Regions from separate parts of the Homo sapiens genome. Here region 2 is linked to region 1. Evidence: fine-mapped expression QTL. A gene starts in region 1. The other region holds a variant in brackets. All regions are shown on one strand. Distances are between the middles of the regions.

Region 1 (5,360 bases):
GTGGCACGATCTCAGCTCACTGCAACCTCCACCTCCCAGGTTCAAGAGATTCTCCTGCCTCAGCCTCCTGAGTAGCTGGGACTACAGGTGTGCGCCTCCACGCCCAGCTAATTTTTTGTATTTTTAGTAGAGACAGGGTTTCACCATGTTGGCCAGGCTGGTTTTGAACTCCTGACCTTGAGTGATCCGCCCACCGTGGCCTCCCAAAGTGCTAGAATTACAGGCATGAGCCACCGTGCCTAGCCTGTTTTTTTTTTATTATTTTTAAAATTTTATTTATTTATTTATCGAGACAGGGTCTTGCTCTGTCGCCCAGGCTGGAGTGCAGTGGTGCAATCTCAGCCCACTGCAACCTCTGCCTCCTGGGTTCAAGCAATTCTCCAGCCTCAGCCTCCCAAATAGCTGGGATTACAGGTGCCGGCCACCACGCCCGGCTAATTTTTGTATTTTTAGTAGAGACAGGGTTTCACTATGTTGGCCAGGCTGGTCTTGAACTCCTGACCTCAAGTGATCTGCCCGCCTTGGCTTCCCAAAGTGCTGGGGTTACAGGTGTGAGCCACTCCTGGCCTCACTTCTATTTTTCAAACCGAGGGTGATGCTTAACCCAAGAGTAGGTGCTGTCAGGCCGAAACATCTGTTCTGGTCCTTGGCTGGCTTTCCCAAGGCCCTGAGTGTCCTAGGGCCTTGTGACTTCCTCTGTGAACTGGAAAACAGCCCCCAACTCCAGTCCCTGCCTGGCTAGGCTTGCCTGAGCAGAGCAGAGGTGAGAGGCAGGAAAGATCCAGCAGCCTCAGAGCTGTGAACGGTGCCAGCCCCGTGATTGACATGTCAGCCGCACTAATAGTATCGCTTCATCTCTCCAGACTCTCCCTTTCCCGGTTTGTCCACTGTTCTGTTTGGAAATAAGGTTGTGCCCTTAGTCATACCTTGATAAGAAGGGAGACGCCCCTGCCTGCCCTCTCTCTTCTGTTCCACCTCCTCTGCCGAACGTTCAGGAGCTCCTCATTCAAAAGACCGTCAGATGAAATGTTTGCTAGAGATAACACTGTGAAGCATTTAGAAACACCTTGCACCAGCCTACTTCTTAAATACTTGTTAAAAACGAGATCACACCCCAAATAGAGTTTCATAGAATATACCTTTTTTATTTTTCATTATTTTTTGAGATGGAGTCTCACTCTGTTGCCCAAGCTGGAGTGCAGTGGCGCAATCTCAGCTCACTGCAACCTCTGCCTCCAGATTTCAAGTGATTCTCCTGCCTCAGCCTCCCAAGTAGCTGGAATTACACGCATGTGCCACCACACCTGGCTAATTTTTGTATTTTTAGTAAAGACATGTTTTCACCATGTTGGTCAGGCTGGTCTTGAACTCCTGACCTCAAGTGATCTGCCCACCTTGGCCTCCCAAAGTGCTAGGATTACAAGCATGAGCCACCGTGCCTGGCCTCTTTTTTAAATCCAGTTTTTATTCAGCAGAATGTTCCGAAAGATCCAGAGGGTAACATGTGGGCAAAGTCCCTGAGCCCTGGCTGGGGTGGCCTGGGTGGGGTTGCCTTCCTCCGACACCCAACTCATGTGGGCCCTGGGCGCCCAGCACCGGGTTCCTTCCCCCCAAACCCATCTCATCTGGACTCTGGGCACCCAGCGCCGGGTTCCTTCCCCCAGGCCTTGAGCCTGGCTTTGCAGCTCCTGCTGCCCCAGGGCAGGTGGTGGTGGCCGCCCAGCCCTCACCCAGCCCCGAGTCCTGTGTGGAAGGCGATTCCTCCCACTTTACCGGGGAGGACACAGAGGCTGAGCGTGGTCACGGCCGGAGCCCCAGCGCAGCATCTGAGCTGCAGGCTGGCCGCCCCCCACCCCGCTGCACCCCCATATTCCACTCACAGACCTTCTTCCTGCTGAACACAGCTGGGCCCTGACGCCTCTGTGCCTTGGCCACAAGGCACCTTCTGCTCACTCAGCTGTCCCTCCAGTCCCCGTAGGGCTGCAGACCCAGGCCCACCCAGTCACAGGCCTGGCAGCGAGGGGGAACAAAAGGGTCAAGGGGCCGCCCAGGGCTGGGAAGGGCCTTGCTCCACCTCGCTCTCCTCCATTCCCCGTGTGGGCCTCCGTCTCCCATTCTGTGAAATGACCCGTTTGGGCCACAGGGTCCCCAAGTCCTCTTGGCTTGGGGCCGTCTGTTCCAAGAGGAGGGGCCATATTGGTCCTTGAGGCCCCTGCGGCCCAGTAAGTCTGCAGTGAGGCCTCCCTGGACGTATATATCAACAAAAAGTCAAACTCCGTAAAGTGTTTGAGACATTTATTCTGAGCCAAAGATGAATGGCCGGGGGCCCATGACAGCCCCAGGAGACCCTCAGACCATGTGTTCAAGGTGGTCGGGCCACAGCTAGGTTTCATACATTTTAGGGGGACACAAGGCATCAATCAATACACATAAGCTGTACATTGGTTACGCCTAGAAAGGCGGAACCACCGGAAGCGGGGATGCTTCCAGGTCATAGGTGGATTCGAAGATTTTCTGATTGGCCGTTGGTTGAAAGAGTTATTGTCGGTAGATAGGAATGTCTGGGTTAAGATAATGGGTTGTGCAGACCGAGGTTTCATCATGCAGATGAAGCCTCCAGGCAGCAGACTGCAGAGAGAATGGATGGGAGATGTTTATTATCAGACTGAAAGACTGTTCTGCCAGTCATTCCAAAAGGGAGGGGGGATAACAAGGTATGTCCGTCTCCCGCTTCCCACCGTGGCCTGAACTCGCTTTTCAGGTTCACTTTGGAATGTCCTTAGCCAAGACGAGGGTCCGTTCGTTTGGCTGGGGGTCTTAGGATTGATTTTCTGGTTTCCATATGCAATGGGAGTGGGGGAGAGATGGGGTGGGGGCAGCCTGAGGCTCAGCCCTGGCCAAGGAAGCCCCCTCCAGGCATTGGCCAGGTTCTGACTCCTACAGTGTTACAGCCGGCAGGGAACTTGGACCCACAAGCTCCTCCCCTCCCCAAGCCTCAGTTTCCTTGTTTGTAAGATGATGCCTGGGGTCCTTGCTTCCTTGTAGGGCTCAAACAAGATCCCAGGCTCTATTAGGAACAGTGCCAAGGCAGGGGGCCCCCAACAGCTCAAGCAGGCTGGAGTTTGGTGCTCACGGAGTAGGGGAAGCTGGTGGCTTCTCAGGCTCATGACATTGTCCCTGCAGGGTGCAGGGCTATTCCCTGGTGGGGCTGGGGGTGTGTGTGGCCATTGGCAGGAGCCCCGATGTTCTCATCCATGAGTCAGCAGAGATGGGAACATCAATTTATTTGAGTGGCTGGTGCAGCCGAGTCCTTGGAGGACAAGGAGTTTTTGCCAAGCCTGGGCCGAATGTGCCAGGGCTTGGGGCAGGGAAACTGTGTCCAGGGACACAGCTTCAAGGGCCCCTGGTTGATGTCCCCAGGGCCTGCTGAGTGCCAGGCCCTGGGACTCAGAGAGGACACCACCCGATGCAGGCCCTGGGACTCAGAGAGGACACCACCGGATGGAGCTGCCCAAAGGGAGTGCCAGTCGGATGTGGGGGTGGGGGAAGAGGAGGGACCAGGATGTGACGGGTCCGAGGTCTCACGGGGTGCCCAGGTGGGCTGGATTTACAGAGCATGGGCGGCCTGCAGGACCATGAAGGGGCAATGGGGGCAGAAGACAGAGGTTGGAGGCAGGGTGGCATGGAGGGTCTCGGGGCAGGGGCAGGAGGGTCTCCAGGGTGGTCAGTCTGCTGCAGTCAGCAGAGGGCACTGGAGGGGCCTGGGCTCAGGCTCCAGGTAGAGCTGACCTAGCCCAGAATGGGCAGGTGAGGGAAGGCCACCGCCTGGTGGGCTTGGCTGTCCCCTCACCTGGACCCCATCGCCGGCCTCTTCCTTGCACGGGGTAGATGCTCATTGATGTGGTGACGTCTAGCAGGAGGATGGCCCTGGGCAGGGCTGTGAGCTGGGAGACCTGGGCTGGGATCTCAGCTTTGGGCCCACACACTGGGATGGAGGAGTGTTTACTGCTGTCTCTGAATGGCTGCAGGAAGGCTGAGGGGGCACATGGTTGATGGGCCAGGCCACTCTGGGCACAGTTGCTGAGAGTCGGCTCTTCCTAAGTGGGGGCACCCGGGGTGGTGGAAGGGAGTCAGATGCCAATTCCCAATGGGTCCTGGTGGTCGTGCCCTGCTGCAGGGCCTTGGCACCCGCCGCCATAGCCATGGAGTCCAGGGGGGCCCCCAGGGGCTGGAAAGGCAGGGAAACAGATTCTCCTTGGGAGCCTCCAAGGAAGCCAGCCCTGGCTAGCACGTCTGTGCTCTGTCTCTGGCTTTGCCTGTTCTGGACATCTCTGGAGGTGTGAGCACCATGTGGCCTTTCGTGTCTGGCTTCTTTCACTTAGCACGGTGGCTTCAGGTCCCTCCGCATTATCGCATGTGCCAGTGCTTTGCTCCTTTTTACACCTGAGTAATCGTCCACTGTGGAGTCATCCTTTCAGCTGCTGAGAGATGCGTGGGCAGTTTCCACCTGCAGCCATCGTGAGTAGTCGGGTGAGGCTGCTGAAGCAGACGAGTGAGGGCACTGCCCGGGCCATTTGGGCTGGAGCGGGGGTTTGAACTCCTCTTTGTGGGACGGAGGCTGTGTTCTTGCCCACACCTCTCCCTGCTCCAGGCCTGTCTTCCCCTTGGGACTGGGACTATGACTTGGTGGCTTCAGCCTCCGCAGGGTGAGCCTGATCCTGAGAGTCAGGCTGGGCTGAGGAGGACGGGTGGGCCTCCTGGGGGAGGTGACGACTTCGGACTGGACCTTGCAGGAGGGATGGGCTGTCTGAGGATGGGAGATGGGAGGAGGTATTGCAGGTTGGGCAGCAGGTGAGGCTGAGCTGGGAAGGGAGGTGGTTGAGGCTGGTTCTTGGGCTGAGTGCTGGGGAGGGGTCGGCCGGGGATCACCGAGAGGTCCCTCCAGGCTGCATGAGCAGAGGAGACACCCTACGGGTGATCTTCTTGCCTTTGTTTCTAGAATTCACAAATCCTACAATTCTAAGCTCTCAGAACCCTTGGATCTGAAGGTTCTCAAATGCTAAGGTTTCTAGATGTTAGCAGACGAAGGTGTCAAGACGCATGGGATCTACGATGCAGAGTTCTGAGTGGGGATATGCGTCCCCCACCCCGACTCACCCCACGACACATATCAGTAACAGCCTCTGCAACTCCGCCTTGGTGCCCCCGCACGTTCCAGGGGCAGCCACACTGATGGATTGCTCAGAACGGGCTGGAGGTGAGATGTGTTTGCCCGGAGCCCCCACACACTGTCGTCTCCAGCTGTGCCTGTCCCTCCCCACCTTCCACTCTGTGTCTCTTCCCTGCCCCCCTTGTGCCCC
Region 2 (5,360 bases), 29 kb after region 1:
CACAAAGCCCTCACCATGGCCCTGCCCCAGCTGCGGGGTGGTGGTGGCTGAGGCCCCAGAGCCTGCCAAGTGCCTCTGGGGTCCCCCAACTCTGTCCCTGGCTTGGCCTGTGGGCCACCCTGCTGCCTTGCCAGGTGGGGAAACCAAGACCCAGCTCTGGGCACCCAGCAGATGCTCGGTGAGTGTTGAACGGAGGGATGAATGAGTGAATGAATGAAATCCAGAGTTGGGTGGGCACCTAGCAGCGCAGCTCCCCCTTATGCAGCCAGCCCAACTCACGCCCATGTTCTCCCTCAGGTCTCTGTTTTCTCATCTGAGAAATGGCTCCCTGTCCAGCAGGACCTGCTCTGAGCTCTCCCCAGCCCGGATCTGGAGGCAGTTTCTCTGCCCTGCCCTTCCCACTCCTGCTTGGCTGGGGGTGAGAACCCCTGCAGGGAGCAGCTCAGGAGCCTCCTATCTAGGGAAGCTGGGGAGAGGGAGGCTGGGGCCAGCCCACAGGGGAACTTACCGCGCTTCACCCGGGCAGGCTGGAGATGGGAGTCCTCAGCTCTCAGCTCTGCATGCAGCCCGGACCTCGCCTTCCTACGGCCTGACGTCAGGCCAGCGCTTGGGGCTCCTTTTGGGCAAAGGCAGGGTGGGGGCGGGGCAGGCTCCTTCCCCGCCCCCAGGAGGAGTCAAGGCTCAGAGCCTGAGGGACGGTGCCTGGGGCACCAGAGTCCCCACACCCACTGGAGACAGAAGAAGAAACCGAGGCACAGAGGGGCCTGGGGCACCAGAGTCCCCACACCCACTGGAGACAGAGGGGGAAACTGAGGCACCGAGGAGCTGAGCCTCAGCTGCACCATCCAGGAGGTGGTGGCTGGCACTTGTGTGTGCCGTGTGCAGGGCAGGAGGTGGGAAACTGAGGCACGGAGGGGCTAAGCCTCAGCTGCACCATCCAGGAGACAGTGGCTGGCACTTGTGTGTGCTGTGTGCGGGGCAGGAGGGGGAAACTGAGGCACGGAGGGGCTGAGTCTCAGCTGCACCATCCAGGAGATGGTGGCTGGCACTTGTGCGTGCTGTGTGCGGGGCAGGAGGGGAAAACTGAGGCACAGAGGGGCTGAGTCTCAGCTGCACCATCCAGGAGACGGTGGCTGGCACTTGTGTGTGCTGTGTGGGGGGCAGGAGGGGGAAACTGAGGCACGGAGGGGCTGAGTCTCAGCTGCACCATCCAGGAGATGGTGGCTGGCACTTGTGCGTGCTGTGTGCGGGACAGGAGGTGGGAGCACACGAAAGCCCAATTTCCTTCCCGGGAGGGGGCATGTGCATGGTAGCTTCAGCCCACGCAAGCCTGGGTTCCTGCATGGCTCTCTGTTTTGCATGTGTCCTGGGTTTGGCTGTGTCTGTGTGTACCCATGACCGACAGCCTGCACACCTGGCATCTGGGCCTCTGTTTGCACCCATGCACCGGTGGCATGTGGCATGTGGGGTCAGGTGTGTGGGAAAGACCTGGACGTGACCCAGGCCAGCAGGTGGGGAGAGCGTGTGGGACCCGGACCTCAGTGCTGGAGGAAGCGTGAGCTCATCAACAGGCTTGATCCCAGAGGGCTGCTGGAGGGCCACTCTCCCCAGACAGCTTCAGAGCCAGGAGGCCTTGTGGCCAGCCTGGGGTGGCAGCGGGGGTTGTCGGGGAGCGGTTGGGGCCATTTAGTTAGTGTCTCCTCTGCCGAGAGCACCATCTCCTCTTGTTCCCATCCCGTGTGCTTCTGCTGATACTCACACTTTAACCTTCCAGCCGCCTGAGTGCCGAGGCCCTGCTGAGTGGGTTGTACTGCACACCGGAGACTCAGGGAAGGCTCCCCAAGGGAGGGGCTGGGCCTTCCCGAGCTCAGGCTGGTTGTAATGCAGACCAACAGGAGAGAGTAGGTGGGCCCTAGGGTCCTGACCCAGCCTGCTGGGGAGGGATGCCGTCTGGGAAGGCTTCCTGGAAGGGGCAGAGGGAGGTATAACAGGAGGCAGGCAGCCCAGATGGGCAGAGGGACAGGAGGCCATCAGAATATTTCCTGGGGAGCAAAGCTGGGAGTGGGCAGGGGACTTCTACACTGAGTCTCAGCAGCCTCTATGGGTACCAGAGTGCTGCAACAGGGAGCCATTGAAAGTTCTGGGAGAGGATGGTTTCTTCACTCTGGAGCAGCCTCCCTGCGGCTGCAGGGCTGAGCCCACAGGCTGCAATTATCTCCTTTAGAACATCGTTGTGTCTGTTTTAGCTGGGGAAACTGAGGCCCAGAGAGGCACAGGAGTCTCTGGCCACCAGCCTCTTGCACCTCTCTGGACCAGGACTGGCTCCTGGCAGGCAGGGTTTCACCGGGCTTGTGGAAGGTGGGGGTGGATGCAATGTCATTTTTGTGTGGGGGTGGCCTGGAGGCAGCCCAGATTGGGCAGGGCTGGAGCCAGAGGAGGCTCAGATTTCCTGAGCAGGCGAGGGTGGCTGAGTCACCGCACCAGTGCCAGGCCTCATGCCCACCTCTGAGGGCCTGGGGCTCCAGCCTTGCACTCTCAGGCTTGTTCTCAGAGAAATCTCAGAGACGGTCCCCCAGCAAACAGCGGGGAACTGCCTGGGGAGGGGTCACAGCCCACGCCAGCCTCCCTGACTCCTCCCCCAGGGAGACTCTTCTCAGCAGGACCCAGGGATCCTCTTGGGGGGACACCAGGGATGGGGGTCCCGAGCTCAGGGCCAACACTCCACAACCCTCAGAGGAGACAGGGCACAGGGACAATTTCCTCCTTGTCATCTTTATCAGGCTGGCAGGTCAGGCCAGGCTGTCTGTGACTGGGGTCAGGGGTCAGAGGTCAGAGAGTGGCTGTGCCCAGGGTCAGGACCCCTTCAGGTGTGTCTGACTGGCCCTTCGCAGGGCAGGAC[T/C]GCTCATCCTGGGCTCTGGCACACTTTGCAGGGTGGGAGGGGCCCCTTGGGCAGACACTGTAGGGAACTGGGCCTGGTGGAGAGCCCTCTCAAGCCCATGGAAGCATCCTTGGAGGCCCTGCCAGCGGTGAGGCATCAGCAGCCTACCATTCCTCCTTCCCCAAGGGACAGGGTGCAGGGAAGCGCCACAATGATATCTCCACATGAGCCGCCAGCAGGGCTACCAGGCCACCCTGGGCAGGAGGCAGAAGTGGCCCCTTGTGAACCTCCATGGGAGCCAGGTGGACCCATGGCTCCTGTCCTCCACCCTTGGCCTGTGACGCCAAGGCCCTCTCGCTGTGGCAGCTGCAGTTGGGAATCCCATAACGCTGCAATCAAGACTGACAAGCCCCGCCCATCATGGGCAGTGCTGGCACTGTAGGGTCCCCATCCTGAGGGATGAAGCCAACAACGGGCCACTGAGCAGTCCCCGGGGTGGAGAGGGCTCAGGATAATGGGGAACAGCAGATGGTGGTGACAGGCGGGTTCTGCCACCCCTGCTGGTGCCTGACACCGCAGACCTCGTCTGTCCTCCTGAGAGACCCTCGTCTTGGTGCCACTCGAGGATGTAAACAGCCCCGGGAGGCTGGCAGCCGTTTTCTGCCATGTGTCCAGGGGTGAGGTCCTCCCAAGGGGGCCTGCGAAGGTGGGGTGATGCCAGCCAGCTCTGCAGGACTCCCACCTACTCGAGAGGCCAGAGCTATGGAGGAGGGGCAGAGGGGGAGTGCAGAGCTTCCAGATGAGGGGTGATCGGGAGACCTGCAGGCTCCTTCCTGGGGGGTCCAGTGCCCACAGGCCCTCTCCTGCACTCTGGACTTGCTGGGTAGCGGGCAGGCACCTGCCATTGAGCTGGGGTGGGCAGGAGCCTTTCTCTGCCCCAGGGAGAGGTGAGCCTGCATGTCCAGGGAATGTGGGGGCCCCTTGTGCAGCCCTGGGTTCAAGCCCAGCCTGGCGCCTCCCTTGTCTGCTCTGATCCTCAGCCTTGGCCCTGTGGCCTGTGCTCACGGCTGGGAAGGGGCGTCCCTCCTCTCAGGAAGCGCTGGGTCCTGCCGGCCACATCACAGCTCCACAGGGAGGCTCAGCCCCACAGTGGGAACCAAGGAAACTGGGCTGGGGGTACAGGGACAGGACCAGCCCCAAGGCCCACAGCAGTGAGGGGCAGCCTGGGCCCAGTCTGCGGCCTCCTCCTATCTGAGGGGAAGACGCGGACCCCACGGTAGCAGAGCATGTCGGGGCTCCAGGGGTGGAGGCTAGAAGAACCAGGGCAGGCTATGAGACCCTGCAGGGCAGAGCCTTTGAGAGGTGGGTGGGGAAGTACCCAGAGTCCGGGATCATCCAGGCCAGTCTTGGCTGAATGCCTGGAACTCAGCCACAACTGGGGACGTCCAGGGTACCTGGTGCTGTGCCTGGTGCACAGTTAGCGCGCGGCTCTGGGGCTCTAGGGAGTCATCCTAGGGTGGCTGCTGGGACTGCTACCCTCTGGGCTGGCCCCCTCGGTGCCCCAAGGCACCCCCTTATGCCTGCTCAACACTGAGGGTTCCCCCCAGGGCATCTTGTCTCAACATCTGCTCTTACACACAGGGAAACTGAGGCCCAGAAAGGGAGGAAGGCCTGTCCAAAGTCACACAGCAAATGGGGCATGCAGACCCTGGCTGGAACCATGCCTGGCTTGCAGCCCCCCAGTACCCTTCTGTTAAACCCAGTCTCATGGACTGTGGGAAGGGGCACCCACAGAACACTGCCTCATCATGGGGTCTGGCAGGGCTGTGGCCCTGGCCACAGCTGGCACAAGGTGGTGAGACTCAGTGTGGGCTGGTACTGCTGAAGGGGCCCACACGGAAGAAGCTGCAGCCTTGAGCCCCATGGAGCCCAGGGAGGGTCCCCGCAGGGAATGGCGGGGGACAGCAGCGCGGGGCTTATTGGTGAGAAAGCAGAGGGAAAGCCCCAGGCTCCTAAGACCCAATCCGGGAGGGATTGCTGGTGGAGGAGGTCTGGTGACCAGCCTTGCAGGCTCTCCCAGGATTCACACTGGCTCTGCCTGGCCTTGCCATGGGTCCAGGAGCCTGGGGTGAGGTCTGAGTGTGGAGTGTGGAATGCGTGTGGGGCTAGCTGAGTCTTAGCTTACAGAATGGGGCAGCAGGGCCTCAGGGGGAACACTGGGACCAGAGGACCTTGGAACCCGCCAAGTTGGCCCCACCTTTTATACATGTGGAGATGAAGGCCGGAGAGGGGCTTCAGCTATCGAAGCTCCGAGGCAGCTCAGCTCCATGCCAGCCTTCCTGCCACCTGGGCAGGGGTGCCCCTTCACGCCCTGGCCTTCTTGTGGCCAGCCAGGTTACAGCTGGCAGCTGGGCAGGGGTGCAGTTCCCACCATCTGGGTCTCCAGGCCCACCCAGGGCCAGCCCAGGAGGTGCTGGGTGAG

Evidence for each region. PIP is the estimated chance that this variant, and not a neighbour inherited with it, causes the effect. A credible set is the group of variants that fine-mapping cannot tell apart.
Region 2: its variant is the best candidate, but not a certain one, in a credible set for the expression of LINC01300 in sigmoid colon (GTEx, PIP 0.66).

What each region holds. Positions count from the first base shown.
Region 1 is chr8:141,337,959-141,343,318 of GRCh38, forward strand. It overlaps LINC01300 (long intergenic non-protein coding RNA 1300), which reads left to right and starts at 2,591. Exons shown (of 4, transcript NR_024441.1): 1 at 2,591-2,714; 2 at 4,383-4,518; 3 at 5,000-5,257. RefSeq lists a silencer at 772-1,066 and an enhancer at 4,215-4,715.
Region 2 is chr8:141,366,693-141,372,052 of GRCh38, forward strand. It overlaps GPR20 (G protein-coupled receptor 20), which reads right to left and starts at 594. Exons shown (of 2, transcript NM_005293.3): 1 at 509-594. RefSeq lists an enhancer at 1,357-1,906 and a silencer at 2,271-2,453. The variant T/C (reference allele first, on the strand shown) is at 2,900.